Homo sapiens: one gene and its partners. The protein of the gene in region 4 purifies or fractionates together with the protein of the main gene of each other region. This does not show direct contact. Each region holds a gene or a part of one and is shown on either strand. Other genes may lie near its edges. The genes, in order: PTPRD, DAGLB, DHRS7, PCDHGB4, GRAMD1A, EMILIN2 and PIGA.

Evidence for each region.
Region 1: the proteins of PCDHGB4 (region 4) and PTPRD purify together in Homo sapiens (affinity purification with mass spectrometry; 2 studies listed by BioGRID and IntAct, with this or other methods). This does not show direct contact.
Region 2: the proteins of PCDHGB4 (region 4) and DAGLB purify together in Homo sapiens (affinity purification with mass spectrometry; 2 studies listed by BioGRID and IntAct, with this or other methods). This does not show direct contact.
Region 3: the proteins of PCDHGB4 (region 4) and DHRS7 purify together in Homo sapiens (affinity purification with mass spectrometry; 2 studies listed by BioGRID and IntAct, with this or other methods). This does not show direct contact.
Region 5: the proteins of PCDHGB4 (region 4) and GRAMD1A purify together in Homo sapiens (affinity purification with mass spectrometry; 2 studies listed by BioGRID and IntAct, with this or other methods). This does not show direct contact.
Region 6: the proteins of PCDHGB4 (region 4) and EMILIN2 purify together in Homo sapiens (affinity purification with mass spectrometry; 2 studies listed by BioGRID and IntAct, with this or other methods). This does not show direct contact.
Region 7: the proteins of PCDHGB4 (region 4) and PIGA purify together in Homo sapiens (affinity purification with mass spectrometry; 2 studies listed by BioGRID and IntAct, with this or other methods). This does not show direct contact.

What each region holds. Positions count from the first base shown.
Region 1 is NC_000009.12:10,602,864-10,607,068, forward strand, and holds part of PTPRD (receptor-type tyrosine-protein phosphatase delta isoform 1 precursor), read right to left. Parts: intron 1-4,205.
Region 2 is NC_000007.14:6,413,131-6,417,335, forward strand, and holds part of DAGLB (diacylglycerol lipase-beta), read right to left. Parts: intron 3,792-4,205; coding exon 3,711-3,791; intron 3,625-3,710; coding exon 3,497-3,624; intron 1-3,496.
Region 3 is NC_000014.9:60,145,872-60,148,966, forward strand, and holds part of DHRS7 (dehydrogenase/reductase SDR family member 7 isoform 1 precursor), read right to left. Parts: intron 2,351-3,095; exon of another isoform or gene 1-2,350. UniProt on the Homo sapiens protein: NADPH-dependent oxidoreductase which catalyzes the reduction of a variety of compounds bearing carbonyl groups including steroids, retinoids and xenobiotics.
Region 4 is NC_000005.10:141,491,620-141,495,824, forward strand, and holds part of PCDHGB4 (protocadherin gamma-B4 isoform 1 precursor), read left to right. Parts: coding exon of another isoform or gene 1-258; intron 259-3,187; coding exon 3,188-3,246; intron 3,247-4,205. Other genes in the region: PCDHGA1 (protocadherin gamma-A1 isoform 1 precursor), read left to right, coding at 3,188-3,246; PCDHGA2 (protocadherin gamma-A2 isoform 1 precursor), read left to right, coding at 3,188-3,246; PCDHGA3 (protocadherin gamma-A3 isoform 1 precursor), read left to right, coding at 3,188-3,246; PCDHGB1 (protocadherin gamma-B1 isoform 1 precursor), read left to right, coding at 3,188-3,246; PCDHGA4 (protocadherin gamma-A4 isoform 1 precursor), read left to right, coding at 3,188-3,246; PCDHGB2 (protocadherin gamma-B2 isoform 1 precursor), read left to right, coding at 3,188-3,246; PCDHGA5 (protocadherin gamma-A5 isoform 1 precursor), read left to right, coding at 3,188-3,246; PCDHGB3 (protocadherin gamma-B3 isoform 1 precursor), read left to right, coding at 3,188-3,246; PCDHGA6 (protocadherin gamma-A6 isoform 1 precursor), read left to right, coding at 3,188-3,246; PCDHGA7 (protocadherin gamma-A7 isoform 1 precursor), read left to right, coding at 3,188-3,246; and 11 more. UniProt on the Homo sapiens protein: Potential calcium-dependent cell-adhesion protein. May be involved in the establishment and maintenance of specific neuronal connections in the brain.
Region 5 is NC_000019.10:35,020,597-35,024,801, reverse strand, and holds part of GRAMD1A (protein Aster-A), read right to left. Parts: intron 3,301-4,205; coding exon 3,197-3,300; intron 3,112-3,196; coding exon 2,938-3,111; intron 2,852-2,937; coding exon 2,764-2,851; intron 1,903-2,763; coding exon 1,891-1,902; intron 1,567-1,890; coding exon 1,459-1,566; intron 1,376-1,458; coding exon 1,255-1,375; intron 1,106-1,254; coding exon of another isoform or gene 1,061-1,105; exon of another isoform or gene 1,017-1,060; intron 1-1,016. UniProt on the Homo sapiens protein: Cholesterol transporter that mediates non-vesicular transport of cholesterol from the plasma membrane (PM) to the endoplasmic reticulum (ER).
Region 6 is NC_000018.10:2,895,047-2,899,251, forward strand, and holds part of EMILIN2 (EMILIN-2 precursor), read left to right. Parts: intron 1-835; coding exon of another isoform or gene 836-975; exon of another isoform or gene 976-1,144; intron 1,145-4,205. UniProt on the Homo sapiens protein: May be responsible for anchoring smooth muscle cells to elastic fibers, and may be involved not only in the formation of the elastic fiber, but also in the processes that regulate vessel assembly. Has cell adhesive capacity.
Region 7 is NC_000023.11:15,321,997-15,325,985, reverse strand, and holds part of PIGA (phosphatidylinositol N-acetylglucosaminyltransferase subunit A), read left to right. Parts: coding exon 1-72; intron 73-833; coding exon 834-966; intron 967-1,114; coding exon 1,115-1,321; intron 1,322-3,989. UniProt on the Homo sapiens protein: Catalytic subunit of the glycosylphosphatidylinositol-N-acetylglucosaminyltransferase (GPI-GnT) complex that catalyzes the transfer of N-acetylglucosamine from UDP-N-acetylglucosamine to phosphatidylinositol and participates in the first step of GPI biosynthesis.

The DNA of each region.
Region 1 (4,205 bases), on a different chromosome or scaffold from region 4:
AATTATAGTAACTGGCAGATGGGACCCTGTTGATCCTAAATGTCACTCCACTCCACCATGAGCTTATCTTCCCTACCTCCACGTTGCTATTCCACCATGCCTCTCATATGAGGTGAACTAACTCAAAACTCTTGGTTGGTTCAAAAATTGTGGCTTTTGGTCATGGATTATCAAGTACAACAAGGTGTTTAAGGAGCTGATATACCATAAAATCTGACGCCAAGAGGCTGTAGAGGTTAGAGTGGTAGGAACTGAATGAATTAATCTTCCCAGGAAAAGGGACCCGAGCTTGAAGGGCCACCCCAGGGAAAGGCAGAGAGCACAGCAGGTTCTCTTTCTGACAGATTGGAAATCCCAAAGGAAGAAAAAAATACACTCAGAAGCATTTGTGCCACGCTTAACTCTCAACTTTGGGAGGAGATACACTGGAGTTAGTTTTCCTTGATATGATTTGCCCTCTGCTTCTTTGTTCCCCTGGGCAGCACTTTTACAGTATCTGTCCTCCTGCATTCACATTTGTGATCATTTACTTATGATAACTTGTGCTCACTTCATTTGAAAGAATTTGTCTTATAAAAGCAGATCCACAATCTCACACTTTTTCTGCTTTTCATGTACAGAATCTAGATAACTGTAGCATTTACCTTCCGTACTAATATGCACATCTGGGAAAATACGTTATTAACTTTAGGCAACTTAACCTCTATGTGCTTTAGTTTTCTCATTTATAAATCAAAGATAATGATTGTACCAACTTCACAGGAATGATATGGGTATAAATAAGTTAATGCATGGAAAGCACTTAAAATAGTGACTGGCAGATATGAAGCAGTCAATAAGTGTTGGCTATTATTATTACCTTCTATCTGAAGATTTCTCAAGAACTCATGAGGCAGTATATAAGAGATAAAATTCAAGAAACCAAGAAGAATAAAAAGATCATAGTGACCTTGAAACCATCTCTGATTTAGAAACAAAAAAGTGTAATTACATACTTCTTTTAATCCCACTACAAGAAGTGATAAACTACATATGAGCTGCAGATTATTATATGGATGAGAAGGATGAATGAGTTGTAAGAGAAATGCACAATACAGACAATAGTATAATCTATTTAATAATGTTAATAACACACCCTTTAATTGTTCATAAGGCCAACATAGTCATTCCTGTGTGTCACCATAGCTCCCTATGAAGTTAAAAAACATAGGCAGAAGAGGGGAACTTGGCAATAGAAACAGAAATAGGAAGAGAACTGATGAGTAATGGAGGAAAGAAAAGCCTGCCATGGTGAGGACCATATATTCTGACCTATTCTGACCATATTCTGACCTAGCTTCTTCATCTCTGTATTCAGCAGCATTTGATTCACACCAAAGCATTCTTGAATATGGCCTGAAATTCCTTTCTCTTAAAATAGCTATCTATATCTGTATCTATAATACCATCAGAATATCTCTCAGAATGCACTGATGTAATACTTCAAAAAGCCAGTATGAATGTGTCTTAGTGAATGTGTAATTTGTTTTATTAAATCCTGGCATGTTTTCCAAGTGGGAGAGGTGTATGGGAAAATAGGAAGACTTCAAGCCCCTAAAAAAAATAAAAATAAAAAGGAAGGAATATCCTCCTGAGGGGCAGGAAAATGGGAGAATAAAGCACTAGACTTAATCCCTGAGACAATTATACTGCAAGAAAGCCTTGTTGCTTGCAACCACACAGGTATAAATGATGAGGCTAAGCTATTCTTTCAGAGCTAACCACATATGTTTCCTAGGAGAAAACAAATGGCTAGCACATATGACACACAATAAATACATCTATTCAGAGGAGTTGCCACTGGAATTCTTACACACTAAAATTATAAGCCATGGTCCATTGAAACAGGTACCATAGATAAGTGTTAATTGAGAACTAATTGAATGTATTATATAATAAAATAGGAAATTACAAATGGGAAATATTTTTTCTATACTTGTGATGCACATAATTTAGCTTTAAAATTTACAGGTATAAAAGTTTTTTGAAGGTGAAACAATATATCATCTTGGCACTGTTTTTCAAAAGTTCCTGCTGAGTAGTACTTTGATAAAGGTTTTCAGGGGGAATAAAAAAGGAAACTCTTCAAACTTAAGTCATAGATGTTTCCATGATTTTTTTTAAGAGAAATCAAGACGTGAACTTAGGGTAACTTATTAACTTCAGCAGTATCTAACAATCCCACTACATTTCTAAACATTTAAATTGCACTTTTGCCTTCCTCTTTGGTTATTTGATCCAAAGTACACATTATAAGTCCTCTTATAAGAATATCTCACCTCAAAAGGTACAGGAAGAATTTCCTCATTTTTCTCTGTCTATTCTCTTTCCTGAGAAAACCAAAGCACTTCTGCTATTATGCTTTGGTTATAGCTGAAAATAACATGAGTCTTGACTGTAACTGCTATTGTATTCTATGAATTTGGAAATATAAGGGACTGGTGCATAGACTGTAAACTGCTGCAGTGGTCTGGCGATTTATTTGTGTTTTTATATTGTGTCAATATTAGGATAGTACGGCGTATTTTTATCATGCTTTACTGCCTTTCTAGAACTTTGGAGAGTTGAACACACATAAGGAATTAGCACTGGAGTGAGAAGATGATGAAGGGTGCCAAGAAATTCCAGTGGAAAACAGCATAGACTGCAACTGCCTAATAAGCAACACAGCTTCCACCTAGGTTCTAAAAGCAATAGCTGTGACTCAGGATGACAGCAAAGGAGAAGGACAATAAGGTAAGTGTAGATACGTATCTGGAAATTTTTCTGTGATATAAAGGGAGAAATGCCTTAGGGAAGAGATTCCTTTTTCTCTATGGAATCAAAAATTTTATGATAACGTGGATACATTTTATAAGACCATAAGATGGTCACAATTGGGTAGTTTCAAATTGCTAGCACATGGCTGTTTTACTCAGCACTCCTTGACACATAGGAGACTCAATACATATTTGGGACTAGATAATATTATATGATTTATGCTGCCGTATTATGCATATTGCATAATCCTGACTAGTGATTCTGACTTGACAACATTTACAAGCTTGAAAATAGAAGAGGGTGCAACCTCTGCAAGTAGTTTGAAAATAGAAGAGGGTGCAACTTCTAAGAGTAGTGCATAATGTGAATATGGTACCTGAATTATTGTCCTATCCTTGATTTCTGTAGCAAAATCAAACAGGAATTACTATGGTTCATGAATAAACTGTCCTTCTCAATGGTTCCAGATGGTTATATTGTTATCAACAGCAAAAAAACGGAAAAGTGACAAGATAAAAGTGTGAGCCAGACTTCCCTAGAAATCTGATGACCACCTAACCCCAAGGTGAAAGATTTATCTTTCATCCTGATAACCATTTGGGTGAAGAATAAGAAATGAAATAATTCTGTCTCTAGCGTGAGATTAATGAGTCACTCCTTCTACCATTCTCTACCCCCTCCATCCTTTTCCACTGAGTAGAATTTCTAACTTTGATTATAAAGATTTGAGGCCAATTATTGGGAAAAAATCCCAAGGATGCTAGCTTATGTGAGTATTTTTCCTAAATTCTAAATACAGGTTTTTCGTAAGTGGCCTACACTGGTTCCACTTTAGAAACAGGAAACACTCCATTACTTCTTCTTTATTTTCTTTTTTTTTTTTTCTGTTTCTGTGCTCTAAATTAACCTTTCCTGGAACTTGAGATAAAATATGAGGTTTGGGTTATTTTCTATGTGGTATAAAGAAGCTATATCTAGGCCTTTATCTTAACTGAGCAAGGACTATTTAACCAGACAAGGGAATGGAAGTATTCCTATGATACGTATGTCATGTTACATGTGGGTAGTAGTAAAAAATGCATGTGAACACAATGCTTGCCTGGCTTTGTTCTCTGTTCGTGTAGCTGCTGAAGGAGTCCCCTTTTTAACACAAACTACATTTGAGAACTATAACTTTGGACAGTTTGTAAAATCTATAATTCACAGAAGTTCTAATATGATGAATGCATTGAGACTTCTGTAGCTGATTACGTAAATATTTGCAAACTTAAAAATGAATTATTTCAAAAGTTCATGAATTCTGTATTTAATCATAATACTTTAATTGTTCCCTTACAGAGTAAATCAGATAGCATTATATATGCAATGATTCATACAAGGCATCCCAGTAGAAAAGACACACATTT
Region 2 (4,205 bases), on a different chromosome or scaffold from region 4:
CCAGGCCTCAGCTCTGTTCTCTCTTCTCTAAAGGGAGGGTAGGGGAAACGTCAGTTATGGCAACTCACTGGCCAGATCCTACTAAAGCCACAATATGTGTTCAACAGAGACGCCCCGCAGCTAAAACCGCAAACTGGACACCAAGGCGGACCAAGCACATGGATCTGTCCTTTGACCCAGAAACCGCGCTTGGAAGACTCCATCAAAGATGCACTGGAGGCCGGGTGCAGTGGCTCACGCCTGTAATCCCAGCACTTTGGGAGGCCGAGGCAGGCGGATCACAAGGTCAGGAGATTGAAACCATCCTGGCTAACACGGTAAAAGCCCGTCTCTACTAAAAATACAAAAAATTAGCCAGGCGTGGTGGTGGGCGCCTGTAGTCCCAGCTACTCAGGAGGCTGAGGTAGGAGAATGGCATGAACCCGGGAGGCGGAGCTGGCAGTGAACTGAGATCGCGCCACTGCACTCCAGCCTGGGCGACAGAGCGAGACTCCATCTCAAAAGAAAAAAAAAAAAAAAAGATGCCCCAGCAAAAATGAAGGGGCAGAGGCAACAGGCGATTCACTGCGGCAGAACCTGCACCGGCAGAGGCTGGAGCCTCCAAACACCCATCCACAGAACTGCCTTCAGCTCCCAACAACGAGTCACATAATAGTGCGTCCCGCACAGCTGGGAGAAGGAGGAGGACTGTGTGTGCCACTGCGGGGTCATCTCAGGACATGCGGTGAAAGTGAACAGCCACGACCAGAGACAGAAGAGCAGGGAAAAGGTGCAGGCTTTCATCAACAGGAGGAGAGGAACACAGACACGCTTCCTTCCAGCCATGGACATAATGGAAACACCAGTCAAAACCACCACATTCTACCTCTGGGGTGACAGAAAGGACTTTTTTGTTTTTGAGATGGAGTCTCGCTCTGTCTCCCAGGCTGGAGTGCAGCGGCACAATCTCAGCTCACTGCAACCTCCATCTCCCAGGTTCACGCCATTCTCCTGCCTCAGCCTCCCAAGCAGCTGGGACTACAGGCGCCCACCACCACGCCCAGCTAATTTTTTGTATTTTTAGTAGAGATAGGGTTTCACCGTGTTAGCCAGGATGGTCTTGATCTCCTGACCTCATGATCTGCCGGCCTTGGCCTCCCAAAGTGCTGGGATTACAGGTGTGAGCCACCACACCCGGCCAATTTTTTTTTTTTTTCTTTTGAGACGGAGTGTAGCTCTGTCACCCAGACTGGAGTGCAGTGGCACGATCTCGGCTCACGGCAACCTCTTCATCCTGGGTTCAGGCAATCCTACTGCCTCAGCCTCCCGGGTAGCTGGGACCACAGGCACACGTCACCACGTCCAGCTAATTTTTGTAAGGAACCGGGTCTATGTTGCCCAGGCTGGTCTCGATCTCCTGGGCTCAAGTGATCCTCCTGCCTCAGCCTCCCAAAGCGCTGGGGTTACAGGTGTGACCCAACATGCCCAGCCTCCTGATGTTTAAGTATCACTATACACTACAGTTACATTTTCTCTTTGGTGTAACAAAAGCCTTTCCTACCTCTTTCCAATGAAAAGGCCTGGAAATTATGACCAGCCCTGTGGTAATGAGAACTACCAGTGCCCCGATTTCAGTTCAGAAATACCATTTCCTGCTAAAAGGAACCAATATTCCTTGGAGAAACGGTTGATTCCAGATATGGACGATGGAAAAAAAAAATACTTGCTCATTTCAAGCCCAAAACTTGAGAATATTCTTGAGAAAGCAAGAAAATGAGGCCAGGCACAGTGCTCAACACCTTTAATCCTAGCACTTTGGGAGGGTGAGGCAGGAGGATCACTTGAGCCCAGGAGTTCAAGACCAGCCTGGGCAACATAGCAAGACCCTGTTCCTTACAAAAATTAGCTGGATGTGGTGGTGTGCGCCTATGGTCCCAGCTACTTGGGAGGCTGAGGCCGGAAGATCACCTGAGCACAGGAGGCAGAGGCTACAGCAAGCCATGACTGTGCTGCTGCACTCCAGCTGGGGAGACTGAGTGACACTCTGTGTCAATTAAAAAAAAAAAAAAGACAGCAAGAAAACAGACGACTGAAATTTAAGTTTTAAAAAATTAATGTCTGCCTCTGTAGACTGCTAGGCAACAATTCATTATTCTGAACACTTCTTTATTGAGGGAAAGATTTAAGCACTTATACATTCTCCTGTTTTTTCCTGTGTGAACTATATGTCAAAGAAACCAAGTGTGCGAAGAAAAGCTCTTTTTGTTCTTTACGTACATACTTTTTAATCATCCCAAAGGGCCGGGATTACAGGCATGAGCCACCACGCCTGGCCTTTATTTCATTTTAATGAAATAAAGTGGTATAATTTTCCTTTATAATCATGGCAAAAGGTTACACAGAACAGTCAGTATGCTGGAATCAGCAAAAAAAAATATAAACTTTTCAGCCAGGCGTGGTGGCTCATGCCTGTAATCCCACCATTTTGGGAGGCCAAGGTGGCGGATCATGAGGTCAGAAGACAGGAGATCGAGACCATCCTGGCTAACACGGTGAAACCCGTCTCTACTAAAAAAATACAAAAAATTAGCCGGGTGTGGTGGCGGGCGCCTGTAGTCCCAGCTACTCGGGAGGCTGAGGCAGGAGAATCGCTTGAAGCTGGGAGACGGAGGTTGCAGTGAGCCGAGATCACGCCACTGCACTCCAGCCTGGGCGACAGAGCAAGACTCCGTCTCAAAAAAAAAAAAAAAAGTAATTTTCAAACTCATAAAAATGTCTTTAAACATGTGCATTATGCATGTGTCCCCACCCAGGGCATATGCCCCCCGAGAGGGCGGAGGGAGTGCTCAGCATACTACGGGCTCTGGGCGATGTGCCTACCAGGCGCATGGATGTCAACAACCGGACCCCTCTGCCAGGGCTGTGAGAATGGGGGAGGTTGTGCTTGCTTGTGGGGAGGGAGGGTATGAGAGATCCCTACAATCTGCTGCTCAGTTTTGCTGTCAGCCTAAAACTGCTCTAAAAAATAAAGTCTGTTTGAAAAAAGACTCTTAGAATTAAATCATTGAGGAAATTACAGGTATGGTCACATAGGTCTAAGAAAGGCTAGACAGACTTTCTTCTGTGAAATAGCGCTTCAAAACACAAACCTCAGCTGGGTGCGGTGGCTCACGCCTGTAATCCCTGCACTTTGGGAGGCCGAGGCGGGCAGATCACTTGAGGTCAGGAGATCAAGACCAGCCTGGCCAACATGGTGAAACCCCACCACTACTAAAAATACAAAAATTAGCCGGCATGCTGGCGGGTGTCTGTAGTCCCAGCAACTCGGGAGGCTGAGGCAGAAGAACCGCCTGAACCTGGGAGGTGGAGCTTGCAGTGAGCCGAGATCACGCCACTGCACTCCAGCCTGGGCGACAGAGCAAGACTTCATCTCAGGAAAATAAAAGAAAAAAAAGATGAGTCTTGACCACATGACTTGTAAGTAGCAAGCTGTTAGAGCAGGAAAACAAAGGCTCACCTCCACAGCCCCCGGGGTGGGGAGAAGGCGTAGCACCTGACCTGCGGGTAGGCGGCTCTGAGCATGGTGGCCAGCAGGGCGGCCGCCCCGCCCCCGAGGCTGTGGCCCACTATGACCAGCCGGTACTCCTAGAGGACAGACAGCAGAATGAGGTGAAGGGTAAAAACAACAGCTCCAAAGAGGACAAGGAAAGAAACGTTAACTAAGATCTCACAGGAGCAATGCTGAAGGCTTGGCTCAAAATCCCGTCGTTGATGAGTCGTTGGTAAACGTATCTGGCAGCTTGAGAAATACCCTAAAAACACAGACAAAGAAGGTGGCCGTTAATCCTCAGACAAGGCAGGCCCAGCAGAGACTCAAAGATGGGATGACGCTGTGCACTGATGTGTGAGTCTCTCCTGGGATCTGAGACTGCAGAATCAGCAGCCACGTCCATCGTGCATGGCTGTGCTCCTGGCACCTTGCACAGCGCCTGACGTGAAGCAGGTGCCAGGTGTGGTGGCGCACGCTTGTAATCCCAGCACTTAGGGAGGCCAAGGCAGGAGGACACTTGAGCCCAGGAGTTCAAGACCAGCCTGGGCGACATAGTCTCTACTAAAATAAAAATACAAGACCAGCCTGGATCCTGACTCTACTAAAAAAAAAAAAATTAACGGGGCTTGGTGGCGAGCGCCTATAGTCCAGCTACTCGGGAGGCTGAGGTGGGAGG
Region 3 (3,095 bases), on a different chromosome or scaffold from region 4:
GATCCCTAAAAATAATAAAGATTCATAAAAACAAAGTTCCAGACATACAGACTAAAGAAGCAAATTCTAGTTAACAAGTACTATTAGCTTGAAATAAGCTATGCTAGCATTTTCTTAACTTAGACGCTTATCAATAAGAAAATTTATATATATACATATATATAAAATATAAAATAGTGGGAGAGAGGAAGAGTACAGACTATAAAGAATGAGGTATTATGTCCTAAAAATTGCTTTGAGAAATGACAGAATGCCCAGCTTATAATAAAGAGTGACAAAGTAGTAAGACTATATAATAAGCAATATTTCAAAGATGGTGGTAGGAAGAAAAAGGCTGTCATTTTTTTAGAAAAACCTAGATGTAAAAAAAATGCGAGATTTGCTAAATGATGTTTATATTTTACAGTTAGATATTCTCTAAACAAAACAAAATATCCTTCATATGGACATTTCTGGAAGTACTACTACAGTGGGACTGAAATTCTCTAGTCCCTGGTCCCTCTTTCCCCTTTGAAAAAAAAATCACTTCTATAATATATTCTTTCTCTGCCCTATTATTTAAATTGAGAATGTGAACCAGTACAGACATTATGGAAAATACGGAAATTCCTCAAAAAATTAAAAATAGAATTACCATCTGATCCAGCAATTCCACTTAAGGGTATAAATCTAAAGGAAGTGAAATCAGTACCTTGAAGTGATACCTACACTCCCATGTTCATTTTAGCATTATTCATAATAGCCAAGATATGGAAACAACCTAAGTGTCCATTAGTGAATGAATGGATAAAGAAAATGTGTGTGTGTGTCTGTGTGTGTATATATATATATGGAATATTATTCCACAATGGAATATTTTTCAGCCATAAAACAATGGAACTCCTGGCATTTGTGAAAACATGGATAATGAATGGACGTTAATGCTAAGTGATATAAGCAAGATACAGAAAAACAAGTACTATGTGATTTCACTTCTGTGGAATCTAAAAAGTCATACTCAAAAGCAGAGTAGAATGATGGTTGCCAGGAGCCAGAAGATGGAGGAAATGGGGAGATCTTGGTCAAAAGGTACACATTTTGGCCAGGCACAGTGGCTCACACCTATGATCCCAACACTTTGGGAGGCCAAGGTAGGTGGATCGCCTGAGCCCAGGAGTTTGAGACTAGCCTGGGCAACGTGGCAAAAACCCGTCTCTACAAAAACTACAAAACCTAGCCAGGCATGGTGGTGTGCGCCTATAGTCTCAGCTACTCAGGAGGCTGGGGTGGGAGGATTGCTTGAGCCTGGGAGGTAGAGATGGGAGTGAGCCATGATCACGCCACTGCAGACTCCAGCCTGGGTGACAGGGCGAGACCCTGTCTCAAAGAAAAAAAATGGTAGATATTTTCAGTTATAAGATAAATAACTTATGTTATTATAATTTACAGATTCTAAGGATCTAATATACCGCATGGTGACTACAGTTAATAATACTGTATAGCATATTTGAAATTTGCTAAGAAGATTTTAAGTGTTCTCACCACACACAAAAAAAGGTAACTGGGTGACATGTATTAATTAGCTTGATTGTGGTAATCATTTTACAGTGTATATTAGATCATCACAATGTATACCTTAAATATATATAATTTTTATGTGTCAATTATAAAGAAAATCTTTGATCATTAAGGAAGCTGAATATCCTGCTATATCTAACTCAAGCTGAGAAGGGGGAAAAAGCACAATAGCTAACACTTAGAACACTCCAAGTTGTGTTTTAAGTGCTTTTCATATATTAAATTCATGTAATTCCCATAACAATCCTGTGACTGGGCACTATTATCATCATTAATCTCCATCTTATATTAATAGATGGGGAGACTGAGTGATAGAGAAGTAACTTGCTTTAAGGGCATGGGGCAGAGCTGGGATTTGAACCCAGGTAGCCTAGCACCAGGCTGCATGCTCTGCCAGGAGGCTGTGCTTCCTCTGTAGTAAGGTGGCCTGTCCCTCTCAACTCTTTCCATCACTGGGCACAAAGCTACTGCATCAGCTGTCCTCCATATTTAAAACTCAGGTATACTCTTTGATGAAACTCTACCTTTAGAGCTTCTACCCACACTACCAAGTCCCAACAATACCAAAACACTCATAAGGGATCTGGCCCAAAGCAAACTGTTCCACATTACTACTTGGTAGAAAACGAAAAGCTCCTTTTTGATTTTTCACACTCTGGACATTTTAGTGTGTCATGACCCAGTCTGATAACCTTTTATGTCTCTTAAGCATTTTGTTGTGTTTGTAACTTTTTACCCCCTAATTCATTTTCACTGTCCTGCAAAGAGTTGGAATAAATTAAATGTCTAACAATTAGTGGATTGCTTAAATTTTTGCAGGTATATATAGTATGATCTTGTTTTATAATTCTTTTTTTATCTGTCAATCCCCATTGATTAATTTCTAAAAGAAGGTGGTAACAAAGTATATCAAAGGCTAACAGTAAAAACCATCCTCAGCAATAATCTTTTGCTGCATAATCATCTATAATTTTTGGTTTACTTCATTACATTTCCTGTACTGTCTATAAATTAAATTCTTTTGAGGGTCACAATTTCTCAGAAATGGTTAATAGTATTCCCTGACTAATTGCTATAAAGAATGAGTGCTGAAAGAATGATAATCAGCATATTTCCTTAGACAGGGGAATAGGCACATCTTAGATGTGCTGAGTACTTCGGGAATGAGGTAAAACTGCATGCATCTGTTTTAACAACACAGTAAGTGCTTTGACAGGAAAGCATAGGGGCTGAGGTGCACTTGGTCCTGGGGAGAAGTGGGAGGGAAGGCCAGGTACCATTCCAAGGAGGTGACATGGGAGTTGAGACTGGTAGGATGGGTAGGAGTTGGTGGGGAGAAACAGTAGGGAAAGAGCATTTTGACACACACACTGGTCAAACAATATGTATAGAAGAAAAACATGGCAATCTTTGATTTGATTTTACCTTGTAAGAAACTTCTCTCTCCAAGACTAGTAATAATTTATAGTAAACCAAAATATATGCATGGGGATAAAATATTTTTTATTTATTTTTCTTTATATCATGAGATTGGTGGA
Region 4 (4,205 bases):
AGCGTTCAGCAGCCCACAGCTCTGGCGCTGGAGCCTGACGCCATCCGGTCCCGCTCTAATACGCTGCGGGAGCGGAGCCAGGTGAGGGGCTCGGCGCCGCCCCGGGCGACCCCTGGGGGCGGCACTGGAGAAGCCGCCCGTCCTCATAAGGGATTGAACTTGCATCCACTCCTCTCCGGCCGGCTTGGTCGCTGGCTGCGCTCCACCCGATTCTCGGGATCATTGGACCGTTTGCGCGAAACCAGAGTGGCCGATTAAGGGATGGGGCTCCGAGCACCGGGGGTGGTGGCGACTGTGGGCGAGGGGAGGTGGGACCGACCCCCACCCCTACACTCAAAAAAGGCCGGGGCCTCCTTCGAGCTTCCGGTGAATTTCGGGCGATTTCCGCGGGTGTCGGGGGTCCCGGGAGGAGGCAGTCACAGATCCACCCCTGCAGCCAGCCTCCTAGGCGCCGGCTCCGGCACGCTTCGCCGGTCTGTAGATTTCCTCTTCGATTTCTCCCCAGCTCCCAGCATCTGTGACTTCACTGTTACCCTCCCTATCCCCGCATCACCCAACCGCACCTGTCTGCGGGACTTAGGTGTGCGCGCGGGGCTCATGCGTGTCCTCCCTGCTGGCCACCCCCACGGCCCACACAAGTTGCACGGGCTCGCCACGCCCCGCCAACACGTGCGCGGACGCACGCACGCACTCCTCGCACGTGGGCTTACGCGAATACCAGCTTTCACTGCCACTCGCTCGCGGCCAGATTCACAGGCCTGTTCCGGTCCACTCGCAGCTCCCCTCTGCCGCTCCCTCCGCCGGGCTCAGGAGTACTCGTAGCTGATTGTGCGCGCCTGAGGGTCCCAGATCGCGGCCGCCCAGGACCAGGCGAGGACTCCGGAGCCTCCTCTCACCTCTCCCACCTGCGCCCCGGGCTGGGCCGGGTCGCCTGGGGGGCGGCCTGAGCGAGGCGCGGGGCCAGGAGCGCTGGAGCGACTGCCGCTCTAAGTGCCGGGCGGGCAGGACTCTACGATCCTTGGGCCAGAGGTCCGGATGGTCCCGGGACTCCGTCTCAAGGGTCGGCGACCCCTCAACCCAGAAGCCTCGAGCAGGCGGACAGGCAGAGCTGCCCAGTGGCCGAGGCGCGGCAGGGCTCCGCGTTGGGCGAGTGAGTGAGCCTCTATAGGACAGCAGGACTGGGACTCCAGTGGCACCAGCGGCCCCTTCCTCCCGCAGGAAGTGAAAGCCTCGAGCGCCCTGGCTCTCAACCCCCAGAGATACAGGCTTTTGGCGCCGTCGTGATCACAATGTGCCCAGCGATCTAGGGTCAGAGATTTGGAGGTGACCAAACTATCTGACACTCTAACAAGTCCTGTCTCCTCTGGCAGATGGAAAGCTATAGGCTCTGCCAGATGCCAGGGTGCCCTTATGTGTGAGGAAACTACAATAGTAAAAAACACAAGTTTCTCCAACTCCAGGAGCTTTTATTCAAAATATATCAATGCCTAACTCTGCTCCTAGGACTGTATTTTGAAACACCCCCAGGTGATTTTGATAGCTGATTGAGAGAAACTTACTATATAACTCCTTTGAGAACCTCATCTCATTTGCTCTTCCCACCATTGCTGTTGGCTAGGTACTAACATGCCTCTCTTATAACAGCTTCACAGAGGTCAAGTGACTTGCTCAAGTTCACAGAGCAAGTAAGAGAGATTCTAACCCCTGTCTAACTCCAGAATGTGTGCTTTTAATTTCTTGGCACTTGGAACTTTAAAAGCTTGAGGACAGGAGAGGGGAGTTGCCTCTGCTGGGATTTTGCTTCTGCTGGGATGGGGCAAGGGTGGGGTTCCTTCCCTTTTAGGACCTTACATGTGGGGAAAGTCTTCTGTGGCTCCTCATTTCTGAGCAGTCCCCGCAGCGCAAACTTGGCCAGTTATCCTTTTGGAGATTGAGTTCCCCCAGCTCCGTTTCCTCCTATCACAATCACTGCATTTCCATGTAGATTCTGCTGTGTCTAAGAATACAGTGGCTGAGGGCTGGCCATCCCTGTGCCCTTCTCCATGGCAGCCCCAGAATGGTGCTGGTGACTCCCGATACACCTGGAATGCTAGGTTTCTGGGTTCTGCTCATATCACTGCCACCTGTGAGCCTTGAGTGAGCCACTGGCAGTTCCGGAGCTTCCTTCTCCCTGGAGTAATCTGAGATACTCACACTCTCTGCTTCTGGGAGCAAGTATGAGTATTAATTACCAGCCCACCCCAGAACCAGTGAGGAGGTGGCTCTAGGAGTGCTCCATGAGAGTGTGTGATGGGATAACACACCCCCTGGAAAGACCAGAAGGGACTCAGGAATGAAGTGGCTGGCCAGAGCCCCACACCTTCAGCTAGGTGGGAGATGGCTACACATCAGCCCCTTGGGAGCCCTGGAGACTTAGTTGGCCCTGCTTGGAGGCTGTGGGAGCTGGATCCCTCCCCGCTGCATCCCTTCCATTTTTCTCCGTCTCAGACAGAGCAGCCTTGTTCTCTTCTCCTTAGTCACAGACCATTGTCTGGCACGGAGTTCTAGGGGTGAGAAGTGTCCCGGGACTTGGATGCCCCGCAAAGGCCCAATCTGGCATGACTCCTAAATTAATAATGTATTTAGCTGTGGGAAGAGATTCTTGCAAGCCAAGGGCCCAGAGAAGATGTCCCTGTGAATGTGTCACTGCACAACCTGGCACCAAAAGGGTTACCAAGAACAGCAGCCATCTTGCTGCAGAGGATGCTTTGTTCCCAGCTGAGGAGTTGAATAAATTCATTCTAGGGCTGGTAGAATTCTCATTGAAAAGCCTCCTTTGCCACTTTAGGGGGCTTTGTCTGCACCTCTTCCCCCAGTTCCACAGAAGATGCCTTCAGTCCTTGAATTTTGGCTCAGGAGTTCTGACTCTGGGGGCAGGGAGGAAGGGGCCATTTCTTTAGGAAAGGAGTCTCAGCTTGCTCACTGTGGTCAGATGAAATGTGATTTATCTCTTGGTTTCTGGTACCTCAGACCTCTGAGACCTGAGGTGTATTTTGTCTTTGGAGATGAGTCCACCCCTGCCCCCTCTTAGTCCGTTTTCTTCTCTGTGCCCACTCCCCTCCTTCTCTCCCGGCCCATCCCTAGGGGCTCGGGTGACATTCTAACTTCTCACGGGTACTCAGCCCCTTTCCCTCTGTTTTCTCCACAGCAAGCCCCGCCCAACACGGACTGGCGTTTCTCTCAGGCCCAGAGACCCGGCACCAGCGGGTAGGTGACTGATTCTCCAGCCCACCCTCTTCTCTGCGGCATTTTCTCAGGGATGACGTGGGAGGAGATGGGGGAGGGCCCAGCATTTGCTACAGATGGCTTCTCCCTCAGTTTGAGATCCCAGGGAGGTCTTGGTGTGCGGGGGGCTGGCACACAGACCCCGGAAGGAAGAGGCGACTGCCCTGACTGTTCAGGAAGCTCAATTCACATGCTTGCCCCTTCCCTCCTCGCCACGACCGGCACCTTTTCCTATCCCCTGAGGGCACTGTGGAACCAAAGGATGGTCTTAAGCTGGTCTCTGGGTGAAAGCGAGGCTTTCTATGCCCATGTACTGCCTAACCCCCTCCCCTGAGTTGAGCTGGGCTCCATTATGACCTGGGGCTCAGGCAGAAAAGCATTTGACCGGAGGAGGCGGTCCGCACTCAGCGCCTCCTCCAGAGCCTCCAGAGCCGAGGCTGACTGCAGCCTGGGGAGAGTGGAGGCAGCACAGCTGGAGGTGGAACTGAGGAAGGACTGGGCGGGGCATGGAGCAGGCCCCCTTCTCCGGCCCCTCCTCCCACTGTCCTCTGCCCCTACTTGTCCTGCTCTCTGTCTGTGGGGTCTCCGTGTCTCTGCCCCTTTTTCTTGAGTTTCCGTCTTTGCCACTTTCTCTTACCTCTCAGTCCTTCCCTCAGTCTCTATCTCGCTTTGCAATCTCTGCCTCTCCCTCTCTTCTCCATCTCTGTCTTAGCTTCCGTCTTGATTGCTGCACCTCAGCCTCAGTCCCTTTCATTTGTCTACTTGCATTGATCTGTGCCGCCCACTGTGCCTGCCATGGCATAAGTGCTCAATAAATGTGGAGTGAGTAACTACACGGGACCCTTAGTCTCTTTCTCCTTCTCTATCTCTGCCTCCCTGTCCTTGTCCTGGACCTCTTTTCTGTTTCTCCTTTCACCGTTTCCTAGCGCCTTGTGTTCTTC
Region 5 (4,205 bases), on a different chromosome or scaffold from region 4:
AATAAAATAAAATAACGCAGGATGGGGGGCCCTGCCTACCCTCTCTATGAGTGATGGGGCCTCAGCCTTCATCTCCTCCCCACCCCATCCTGCCCCGCCCTTTCCAGTGTGAGCCTCTCCCAAGCTTGATTTCGGGGGGCAATGAGACCCCTAAAGATGAGCCTTCTGATATGGAAGGGTCCAATGAGACAAGATTTTCACCGTCACCCACAACTTCAGCTCTGATGGCCTTGGAAATGCAGGCAATGCCAGACTCTGTTTCCCATCCGCTTTCCCCCTCGACACCTTCCCCGAGTGCCTAACACTTGCTCTGACCCACCACAACTGCTGGCCTGACACTTGCTCTGACCCACCGCAACTGCTGGCCTGACACTTGCTCTGACCCACCGCAACTGCTGGCCTGAGTCTACTGGGGCCTGAGGGAATTGTCGTGTGATGACATCACATTTATTGGGCATCTGCTTTGTCCCTGGCACTAGGCTCAAACTCAGGACAGCCAGCCCACATCCAGTGTTTCCTGCAGGCCTGGCACCACTCCCAATGTCAACTTGTCTCATCCTCACAACAGTCTTTGAGGTAGCATCAGTCATTATCCTGTGCACAGAGGAGTCCACGGCCACCATGGCAAAATCACTTGCACGAGGTCACACACCGGAATTGGAACCTGGTTGTCTGAGTAGACATTGTCCCTGAACTACACTGGGTGTCTGGGTCCACTCCGTTTTGGAGATGAGACCTCAGGTCCTTTGGAGAGTCTCTCCCCTTCAGACCATGTGACCCCTTAGTTACCCCAGAGTGGGGTAGCGGGTAGAGGGACCACACGTGGCCTGCCCTGGCTGTTGTGATGTGTCAGGGGTAGGCCTGGGACCCCAGCAGCCAATGAGAGTAAGCTCCGTGGTCCCCTGTGGGGGGAAAAGGGTGGCCTCCAATGAAGCCAACCCTGGAGATGGGCACAGGGCAGAGTGGGCACGAGAGACTGACTCTTACTGCCATTGAGTGACCAAACCCGGCCGTGCCTAATGTGAGACGCCTCTGGACTTTTCTCCAGGACGTGAGCCAATCAGTTCTGTCTTCCATCCATGCTTCCATGCTTTCCCCTGCAATGCTGTGGGGTGGGGACTCTGAGCGGCTTCCTCATTTTACAGAGGAGGACACTGAGATCCGGAGAGGGGAAGTGCCTGCCGCACGGTGGGGTTTCAACACAGGACCCTGCAGCCCCGCAGCCCCGAGCCCTGCCCGAGCGGCGCCTCCTACCTCATCCAGGAGCTCCACGGAGGCCCGCAGGATCTGCCTCCACTTGTGCACCTCCACGCTGTGGAATTGCTTCTGCAGCGCCAGGATCTCGGCCCACTCTGTGGCCGTCTGGGGGAACTTGCTGTGGGGATGCCAGGCCTGAGCAGGGCCTTGGCCTCCCCCGATGTGCCCAAGCCCCCCCATTTCCCCAGGCTACCCACTCACCCCTTGGCCAGGGCCAGGCTGTGCCAGGACTCAAAGGTGTGGGCTGTCCTTTCCAGGGACCAGAGGCGGTAGAAGAGCAGGACGTTGAGGGCGATGAGGATGATAAGGCTGGGGACAGGGGTCAGAGGTCAGGATTCCTGGGGTCTAGATGCTCTGAACACCCCCAAACAACTACATCTTGTAGGGACACCTCTATCCCCCATTGCAGAGGAGGAGAATTAGGCTCAGAGAGGATGAGAGACATGCCTAGGGTTGCACAGTCCATAGCAGGGAAGTCAGTGTTCAAACCCAGGTCTGTCTGATGCCCATACCCTTGACTGCCATGCCAGGCCACCTCCCTGGGGGAGCTGGGGGGCATGGGGTGGGGAGAAGAGGCTGCAGCAGGGGTGGGGTGCAGGGAGGGGAGGGCAGGGGGAGGACTCGGGACCCTACCTCACACAGATCCTGCAGCAGCAGCAGTGAGGGGAGACAGAGAGATGAGCGCCGCCTGGCCTGCCCCCGACACCCCCAGCCCTCCTCACCCGGGGCAGCTCTTGGCTGAGAGCACCACGCCCCCTCACTGGATGAGAGCTGAGAGCTGAGGCTCAGAGGCTGAGCATGTAGCTGGCCTGACCCTCACCTCGCAGGGTCTGCTCAACCCCGGGATCCTGCTTCTGTTTCCTCCCAGCGTCCTGCCCGCCAACTCCTGCAGGCTTCTGGGCAGGAGTGTGGGTTCTCCCTGCCCAAGCCCTTAGCCTACGCGGTCTCCACTCTCTCAGGACGCCCATCCTGACTGCCCCCTCTGGCCTGGGAGGAAGCCGCCGCTGGCCTCCCAGGGCTTCCCCACTCCCAGCCCCAACCCCTCTGCCCATACCTCCCCCATCCCAGCCCGGATCACTCTGGTCTGGTGTGAGGTCTATCTTTTCCTCAAGGTCACTGCGGTGTCCTCAGCATCGCCCAGCTTAGGAGTGGGCACAGAGAACATAATGTCCATAAATGACCTCACTTGTTAGGCACACCTCTCCCTGTGCACCTAATTCCAGAATCTTTGTGTGCCTGCTCCTCCAGAAAGCCCCCCTTGATCCTTGGGTGAGGTCAGGCCCCTCTGATCTCCCATAGCCCCCCCCGGCTCTGCTGTTCTAGCAGGGAAGGCTTCTCCATGACAAACCGGCACATCCCAAACATTGCCTTGTCTAATCCTTGCTGTGAGCAAACCCACGCTCCCACTTAAGCAGAGAGCTCAAAGAGGCCACACACTTGCCCAAGGTCACACAGCCAGGAGGCAGGTTCAGGCCTGTGTGGCCACTGCTCCTGTCTCTTACTCACACAATGCTGATGAGAACCAGGGCACTGGGGATGCCTGCCCCGGGGCCCTGGTCCACAGATGGTTCGGAGAAGCGGGAGCTGAGGGAGCCTGCAGGAGAGCAGCTTGGAGTCAGATGGCCCAGTCCAGGACCCCCGATCCTCCGCCTACCCCAACCCGGCCCCAACGGAACGTACCCGAGGTGTGAATGCCGGCCCGGGCACAGGGGTCAGGATCTGGGTGCTGGGGCCCGTCCCCGTGAGCCCGCCAGCTCAGGGGCCGCTTCCGCCGCCGCAGGCCGGATAGCAAGCCCCGGGCATCCTTCCCGCCTTCCTCCAGAGACAGCTTCTCAGCCTTGGCGAGCTCTCGCTCTGCGTAAAAGAGAGGGGGCTCTGGATGTCCATACCTGGCCAGGCCATCCCCCAACCCACGCCCCAGCCGGCCTTCTGTCCCTACCCAGATGGTGGAAATAGTCTTCAATGCCGCTCCACGAGTTCTTCTCAATGAGCGACTTCACCAGGCTCCACGGCTGCTTTCGGTAGCGGATCTCAGAAGACACTCTGGGGTTGGGAGATCAGGGGAAGGAGGTAAGGGTCTGACTCCAGCCCTGGCTGCCCCGTCCCACAAGCTGAGTTTTTTCCTTCCCCTAATTCAGAGAGGGCCCCTTGTCACTCACAGACAAAACAGATGGGTTCCCTACCCCCCATGGCTTCCCTGGATACCCCATACACCACCCGCCCAGCCCAAATGCCAGCCAACTCAGCCCTCGGTCCTTCTCCACCCATGCCCACTACCTGGGCAACGCTCCCGGCGGCCTGAGCCCTGTCTACTCACAGACTGACGTCTTAACCAGACCATGCCCCTGAACCTCTTCCATTCGGCTGCTGCACCCCAGCTCCACATGGGCTCAGCTCAACATAGACAGCTGAGTCCCAAACTGACCTCCTGGTCTTTCCCCAAACCCATTCCTCCCTGCCGCCCCCATCTGGGTCAAGGGCAGCTCCGAAGTTGTAGTGATTTGGGCCAAATGCCTCGGGATATTCCTTGAGCTCTCTTTCCCTCACCGCCACATCCAATCTCTCAGCAAATCCTGTCAGCTAAACCTGCAAAATCTCTCCAGAATCTAAACTCTTCCCCCTCCATTTCCTCACCCTGATTCAGCCTCCGTCCCCTCCAGCCTGGATGTCCCAGCAGCCTCCTCCCTGGCCTCCCTGCTCCTGTACCTGTCTTTGCAGTCTGTTCCCACCAGAACAGAGGGAGCCAGAAGGAGCCTGGGACCACCTGAGTCAGGTCAGCGCCCTCCTGGCTCAGAGCCCTGGCCTGGTTGCACCTCACTCCAGGTAAAGTCAAGTCTTCACCATGAGCCACATCTGGTTCACCTTTTTTTTTTTTTTTTTTTTTTTGAGACAGGGTCTTGCTCTGTCGCCCAGGCTGAAGTGCAACGGTGTGATCATGGCTCACTGAA
Region 6 (4,205 bases), on a different chromosome or scaffold from region 4:
CCCTTTAGTTCATAAGCTCTTACTGAGCCCCTATTATGTGGTAGGTAATGGCTGTGTGGGGGAGTATGTGGATAAAAGTCTGATGGGGAAACAAGCAGACAGATGGTCACAGGAATGGGGTGTGGTGTGCATGAGCCACCTTGAGTGTTCAGAGAAGCACCCACAGTGGAAGTCAGGGAGGGATTCTCAGGAGAGAGCCCTGAGCTGAGCCCTCAGTGTAGGTATTTACCGAGCAGAGTACAGAGGCTGATGGGGTGAGGAATAAGGTGAGATGAGAGAAGCTTCCAGGAGGAGGTGTTACTGGATCTGATTGAGGGATGGGTGGGATTCAGAAAGCAGGAGGGGAGGACATTGTGGATTAGCTATTTATTGCTTTATAACAACCCATTCCAAATCTTGCTGGCTTAAAACAACAAAGATGTATTAGTTTCCATTATTCTGTAGGTCAGGAACCCCGGCAGGGCTTGGCTCAGCGGTTCTTCTGCTCTATGTGGCATCAGCTTGAGTCGCCCACTCAGCTGCATTCAGCTTGCGGTTGACTGGAAGGTCTGTGAAGACTCAGTCATATGTCTGGTGCCTCGGTGCTCCTCCACCTGGCCCCTCTCTCCATGTGGCCAACCTGGGCTTCCTCACAGCATGGCGGTGTCAAGTAGTCAGACTATGGCGACTGTCAAGGGAAAGTGGAAGCTGCTGGGCCTCCCACAGGCTAGCCCAGAGCTGGAGTGGCATCACTGCCACATTCTATTGTCAAAGCAGGTCTGCTCTTGAAGGGTGACGTGGCTGGTATGTTTGGGGAGGGAAGGGGGATTAATGGTGGTCATGATATCTACCACAGTGAGCACAGATCCAGAGGTGAAGATGTGTGATGGTTTTGGACCAGTAAGCAGATCGCCAGACCGGGAACACACACTGTGGTGTTTCTACTCAGCCTGTTGCCCTCTTCACAGATCCTGTTTCCTTTGGAAGCATCACTGAGGTGAGGCTGAATTATCCAAGAAGCAGCCAACAGGGGAGAAGAAGGGCCTTCAGCTGATGCTTAAATAGATCTAAGTCTCTTTTATATCCTTCTGTTAAGGGCATATATATATATAGCATATGTATATATTGCATATATATAATGAATAAATAAATATATATAATTGTTTTTGAGATGGAGTCTCCCTTTGTTGCTGGGGCTGGAGTGCAGTGGCGTGATCTTGGCTCACTGCAACCTCCGCCTCCCGGGTTCAAGCGATTCTCCTGCCTCAGCCTCCCAAGTAGCTGGGATTACAGGTGTCTGCCACCACATCCAGCTAATTTTTGTATTTTTAGTAGAGACAAGGTTTCACCATGTTAGTCAGGCTGGTCTCGAACTCCTGACCTCAGGTGATCCACCCATCTCAGCCTCCCAAAGTGCTGGGATTACAAGCATGAGACATTGCACCCGGTCAGATATATATATATTTGAGACAGGATCTTGCTCTGTCACCCAGGCTAGAGTACAGTGGTGCAATCACAGCTAACTGCAGCCTCAACTTTCCTAGGTTCAGGTGATCCTCCCACCTCAGCCACCCAGGTAGCTAGTACTACTGGCACGTGCCATCGCACCCAGCTAATTTTTTGTTATTTATTTATTTATTTTTTTAGAGATGGGTTTCACCATGTTGCCCAGGCTGGTCTCAAACTCTTGGACTCCAGTGATTCGCCTGCCTCAGCCTGGGATTCAGGCATGTGCTGTAATTACATGTGCTGGGAATTACGGGCATGAGCCAGTGCACCTGGACAATTTTTTTTTTGGAGATGGGGGTCGGGAGACAAAAGGTCCACAAGTCTGGGCACAGTGGCTTACGCCTGTAATCCCAGCACTTTGCGAGGCTCAGACGGGTGTATCGCTTGAGCCCAAGAGTTCGAGACCAGCCTGGGCAACACAGGGAGTCCCTGTCCCTACAAAAAATACAAAAAAATATATACTTTTGAGAAAATGGTCCAGGCAGAGGGAACAGCATTCTCAAAGGCTATGAGGAAGTTCTTTTGAAAAACCCAGAATAGTGGTATGGCCAAGCGTATAAGCAAGGCAGAAGGTCATCAGCAATGAGGTCAAAGCGAGGGTAGGAATGAGATCAGGCAGGCTTTCTAGGCTGTGATAAAGGAGTTGGATTTTAAGTACCGTGAGAAACTATTGAAGGATTTTGAGCTGGGGAGTGATTACTTCCGTTGAAATCCCTGCTCATCCATGCTTGTAAACAGTGGAGGATTAACTAATGTCCTGGACTTAGTAATCACTCAGGAAAATTACCTATTACTTAAACCCTCCATACCCTAGAATGGATGTTTAATCTATTCATGACTGAACTTTTCTCCCTTTCTCTACCTATAAACCCCCAGGCCTCCAGCCTTGGAAGAGAGAGGGCCTGTAAACACAGCAGACACAGGGTGAAGGGCCCTGGTGGCTCCGGTGATGCTGTAGGTGGCCACAGGTTTTTTTGTTTTTCTTGCTTTCCCTTTTTCTTGTTTTTAAAATTAGCGTTCAAATAGACAGTATAAAAAGCCTTAGAAATGGCTGGGCGCGGTGGCTCATGCCTGTAATCCCAACACTTTGGGAGGCCAAGGCAGCAGGATCACTTGAGCACAGGCGTTCAAGACCAGCCTGGGCAACACAGTGAGATCCTGTCTGTACAAATTAAACATTAGCTGGGTGTGGTGATGTGCACCTGTGATTCCACCTACTTGAGAGGCTGAGGCAGGAGGACCCCTTGAGCCCAGGAGTCTGAGGCTGCAGTGAGCTATGATCACACCACTGCACTCCAGCCTGAGCAGTACAGCATAATCCTGTCTCTTTAAAAAAAAAAAAAAAGCCTAGAGATCTCCCTTTTCAGCATTCACAGCTTCATGTATCTCGTGTATCGATAGTTTTTTTGAGCAGAATCTCATCACTTATGAACAAATTAGGTTATAAATGGAAAGGAGGCTCGAGGCCCTTTATTCCCTATGCAGTGTAGCCACGGAGTTGAGCCCTCCTTCCCAGATGGACTCGCTCCCATTTTCACAGGTGCGGGGAGCATCAGGCCTTCACACTCTCTCAGCAGGCATCCTCTTTTGTTCCTTTTTCCCAAGTTGCCCAGCCTTACCCCCACTCGAGTCTGAGTGACCCATGAGTGATTCATAGGGAATTACTCACAGGTATCCCCACAAGTGGGGGTGTGTCCTGGCCACAGGGTCTGCCTCCCAGGCACTGGGTGACCAGCAGAGGCTGACTCCCTGCCTGGGACCCAGGACTAGCCCGGCCTGCAGCCCAGTGGCAGCAGCATGTGGAGAATGGGGCAGCCCGCCCTCCCCAGCTGGCTTTAGCTTCCCCTGGCCCCACACACAGGTTGAGCCTCAGCTGGACCCTGCCTTCCCACTGTTCCTCTCCCGGTAGAGGAAGGAAGGGGTGCTGGTGGCGAGCAGGAAGGGAAGGCAGAGGGACGTAGCTGTGTGCAGGGGACTTCTCTTTCCAGATGTCACGCTTCCAAGTAGAGACAGATGTCTCTTAGATCTCAGCACACTAGAGATAATGGCATCACTTCCTTTTTCTGCTCTCCCACCCCTTTCTGCTCATGTCTCTGAGTAATTTTCATCATAGCGTTTCTTTTAGGAGTGCTGCAGGTTTAAGCGTACTATTTTTATTGAGTTAAGCTATAAGAATGAAAAAGCACAGCCTTGTCAAATAACTATTTAACCAGAAAGCCTGGCCAGGGCACTGCCTGATGCCAACATTCTGACCCCTTTGCCCCAACTCAAAATCAGCTGAGTTTGGGGAGAGTTTAGGCCCAAGGTAGCATGATGGACTTAGAGTTTTATAAACATATAAAGGCTCAATAAATTGCTTATATTCAGGCCATAGGGAACTCCTGACAACTCGCCCCCTTTATCCTGTAGGCACCAGGTTTCTACGATGCCCTTTGGTTCGTGTAAACCGCAGCTGCTCTACTGCATCTTAGCCTTGAACTTAGAGCTGCAGTGTTCGGAGAATGGAGCTTTCCCAGAGCTGCATGCATAAATGCCTCTGGGATCTTTAAAAAAAACAAAAACAAAAAACTCCTCGGCTCACTCAGGAGATCGCTGCTCAGCAGCAGGGATGAGGTGAGGGCCAGGAATTTGTAATTAAATTTATAACTAAAAAAAACCGCTAGCTCTAGTCCTGGAAATTGAAGGCTACCCCAGAGGCAGAGGGATCTACCCACCCC
Region 7 (3,989 bases), on a different chromosome or scaffold from region 4:
CATAATTGGAGGAGAGGGACCAAAGAGAATCATTTTGGAAGAAGTTCGGGAAAGATACCAGCTGCATGACAGGTATTGATGAATTTCATGTTGTCTTGAGGGAGAAGATGTCAATTATCTCTATTTGGTTTTAACTGCATGCGTACCTTAGGTGTGTTGCTTCTCCTGCATGTAATTGATATACATATAATTGATATAAATCTAATGCAAGGACTGTTTTCAAAATTTTTATATAAATAGGAAACCTAGTTAATTCACTATTTTTTCCATTAGCCCAATATTATTTGACTTTGGGGGGCCATTGTTGGAGGCACCATGAAAGGCACAAAAAACAGCTGCTTTAACTGGAAGCGTTTGCAGATTTCCAGGCCATACTGTGTAGTGATTTAAGTAATAGGGCTCAAATCATGTAAATTGCTCTGCACATACAGATTTGGACAAGTCTCTTCCTCAGTAACTTACACAACACAAGGCTTGTACGTGTAAAGCATCAATTTTAATAAAAAGGCCATTTTCCTGTTTACAAATGGCACTTTAACATTAAATTATCAAAGTTTATTAATATTATTACATACAGACTAGTTTTGGAGAAGATAAAGTTTGATATGTGTAACAAAAGTTAGAAATAATGTTCGCTGTATGAGTTTTAACCCAACTGCTTTATAAGGCTGTTTCTATTAGATCAGTGTTTGGTGATACTAATCTTGAGGTGGAGAACATTAGCAGCAATAAGAATTTAAGTGTAATATAAATAGCAGACTTGGTTTATAAATTAAATTTCTTTTGTAGCATGAGTTTTCACTCCTTTCTTCCCCTCTCATTTAAAAAATCAGGGTGCGTCTTTTGGGAGCTTTAGAACACAAGGATGTTAGAAATGTCTTAGTTCAAGGACATATTTTTCTGAATACCTCCCTTACTGAAGCATTCTGCATGGCGATCGTGGAAGCAGCCAGTTGTGGTTTACAGGTAAAAAGCTTTGAGGGCATTCATGGTTGGGATTTCTGTGTATTTTGAAAAATAATGAGACACATTCCATAATAATGTTTTAACTGGTTTTGTTGATCTTCCTGAGGTATGATTATGGTGGAGTATGTGTTCTTTCTTTCTTTTTAAGGTTGTAAGTACCAGAGTTGGTGGAATTCCTGAGGTGCTTCCAGAAAACCTTATTATTTTATGTGAGCCTTCAGTAAAATCTTTGTGTGAAGGATTGGAAAAGGCTATTTTCCAACTGAAGTCAGGGACATTGCCAGCTCCAGAAAACATCCATAACATAGTAAAGACTTTCTACACCTGGAGGAATGTTGCAGAAAGAACTGAAAAGGTATGTCACATGCTGAGAAAAGATTGTGTCTGAACTCTTACTTGATGTTTCACGTACACATTTGCTTTTTCTTACATAGATGTTTACCATTTTTGTTCTATTGCTTAAGTTGATGAAATCTCTTCCAGGTGAAAAGAAACAGATTTTGGTACACACACCGGGCTAAGTGTCTGGTCAAATTATTGCGTTTGACATTTGAAAATAGCAGTAATACAGTCTAGCCCCCTCATTAAACTGGGCATAAAGAAGTTACAAAATTTTCTAAAAGTCACAATGAGTAGAGACAAGACGAGTATTAAATCTACTCTTAGATATTTTCTTGAAGCTGTTGATAATTCTAAAGCAAACATCTCTATTAGGAAATGCATGGTTTTGCTGATTGCAGCAACTTTATAACTTGTGAATATTTAATTCAGGCTACTTCCTAAACCTCTTGTAGCCCTTTTGCTAACTACTGTGATTTTCTCCAGGAAAAGGATTTTTGCATCTTTGGGCTGATTGAGAACATAGTAAGTTAGAATTCAAAATGTACGTGACAAACGTGGGAAAAATCACAAATAAAAAGCAGCAACAGAGAATTTCCAAAAGGACAGGTATAGGAAATAGATTAACACCCTTAGGTAGGAGATTACAGTTGTGGGAAATGCTTCCTGAATTTGAATTAGGGACTGCTTTCATTCTCAGTTTCATCCTTTACGTCCTTTTCATGATGTTCTCTGCCTCATGCCTCTTATTACCATGTAACAAGCTGAACAGAAACAACTCAGCTTCTTAGTATGTAGAAATTGTGAACCAGAAAGATAACCAGGTGGAACATGGAGAAGGTAGTAGTTTAGAGTAATGCTACCAACGTGATATTCAGTGGAGCAATGAGTTTTTAGCCTAGAGTAGATAGCAAGTTGGAGCTGAGGAGAATAGCTCTTTACTGTAAGGCTTTCTTACTTGGTTTGAATGATGAATTCCAGTATATAAGATGAACTCATATGTGAATGGAAGTTCTAAAAACTTATCTCTAAAAATTGTCTTATACATTTTCCATTGAAACATGAGATGTTTGCGACAGTCAAACATTTTTGACTGAAGCATTTTGAGACATTCTGACCTTCTACAAGTCTTGTACTATCTCTCCCATATGAAACATGGAAAGTTGGAGTCTAGTGCTTACCTGTTGGGAGTACATGTCAGAGTCCCCGGGCAGCCTTTTCAGACTCTCTCTACTCCATCTTGATGTCCCCCTGCCTCCCCAACCACTCCCTAGATTCCAGTGTTATCCTTTAGGAGCAGAGATAGAATTGGGGGTATAATTGGCAGGGATATTTGGTCAGACAGGTTATTTTGATGATACCATCCTGATCTCCACTCCCTTTGAGAACCATGGCACTGTTAAGTTGTGACTTGACCTTCTTCATTGACATCGTATAAACCCCAGAAGCCTGAGCCACTGTAGGTAATAAGTTAACAGGGAAAGAACTGTGGTGACGGTTTGTCAGCATATAGTAAAGGGGCTAATTGGGATTTTTTTGGTAACCACATTTTTCTTTTGGTTAAAGTAATAGTACAGCATCTGTATTTTTTTTAATTCTATGGTGATTTATAATACACTTTTAGAAAAAAGTAAATCCTTGCCTATAATGGATTGTCATCGCTAACATTCTCTTCATAATAGTAAATTGTTATTTTATCACTTAAAACTATAAGTAGATTAATTGACCTGAAATAAAGCTGGACAAAAAAGTCAGTTTGTAGTTACTCTTTTAACCCTATGACATTTTAATTCATTTCAACTCCTCCTTCTTAGTTTAACTGTGCTATTTAGGAAATCGATCATGAAATTAATTTGGAGTTCATGCTGTAAACATACTTCTTCAATTGCAATTCACCAGTCTCAGCATAATTCTCAACATAATTCTGATTAAAATGTTTGTATTCAGAATGTCCTCAGGGTAAAAGAGCTCGATGAAAACATGCCGTACCTTTCAAGGGCTGTTGACCTGTACAACATGCACTGCATGTTATAACTTCCTTGAGTTCAAAAGGAGACGGTTTAAAGGTCTAATATATGAGACTAAGCACAAGTAATACTCAAATTACAAAATATGAATGTTGGCCCATTTGATGTGTTCTGAACAAGTATGTTTAAAGATCTTCGTTTTTTGATATTTTAGAGCTTAGTACTTAGCAGTGTTTTAAAAAGCAAGCCACCTACTTGCTCAGCAAAAAACGTTATTTCATTTGCCAGCATTTGACCTATACTATCTACTGAAATTTCCCCCATCTCTTTATCTTCTTTTATTTGAAATCCATGAAATGCTTCTGCATGTCCTCACCATCCATGCTCAGCAACATGTACAGCCTCATGTGGCTGTTGAAAGAGGAGGCTCTGTGTTCCCAGAAGTATGCTAGATTGTAGCTCTCTGCTTGTGGTTGATGTCTGCCAGATGCCGGTGAGAGCATCTCAGCTTAGTCAAGGAATCTTCAAAGGCAAATCCTGCTTCAGTACTGCTGAAGTCACTGCTGAATTAAATATTGACCCTACAGTGGTGACCCCAAAAGCTGTTCAGACTTTGCGGGACTTTGGAATTCTAGTAGTTGGCTAAAATTGATGGTGACTCCCTAGGGGAGAGGAACTGTGGCTTATTCTTTGTATCACACAGCCTCTAGCCCGGTG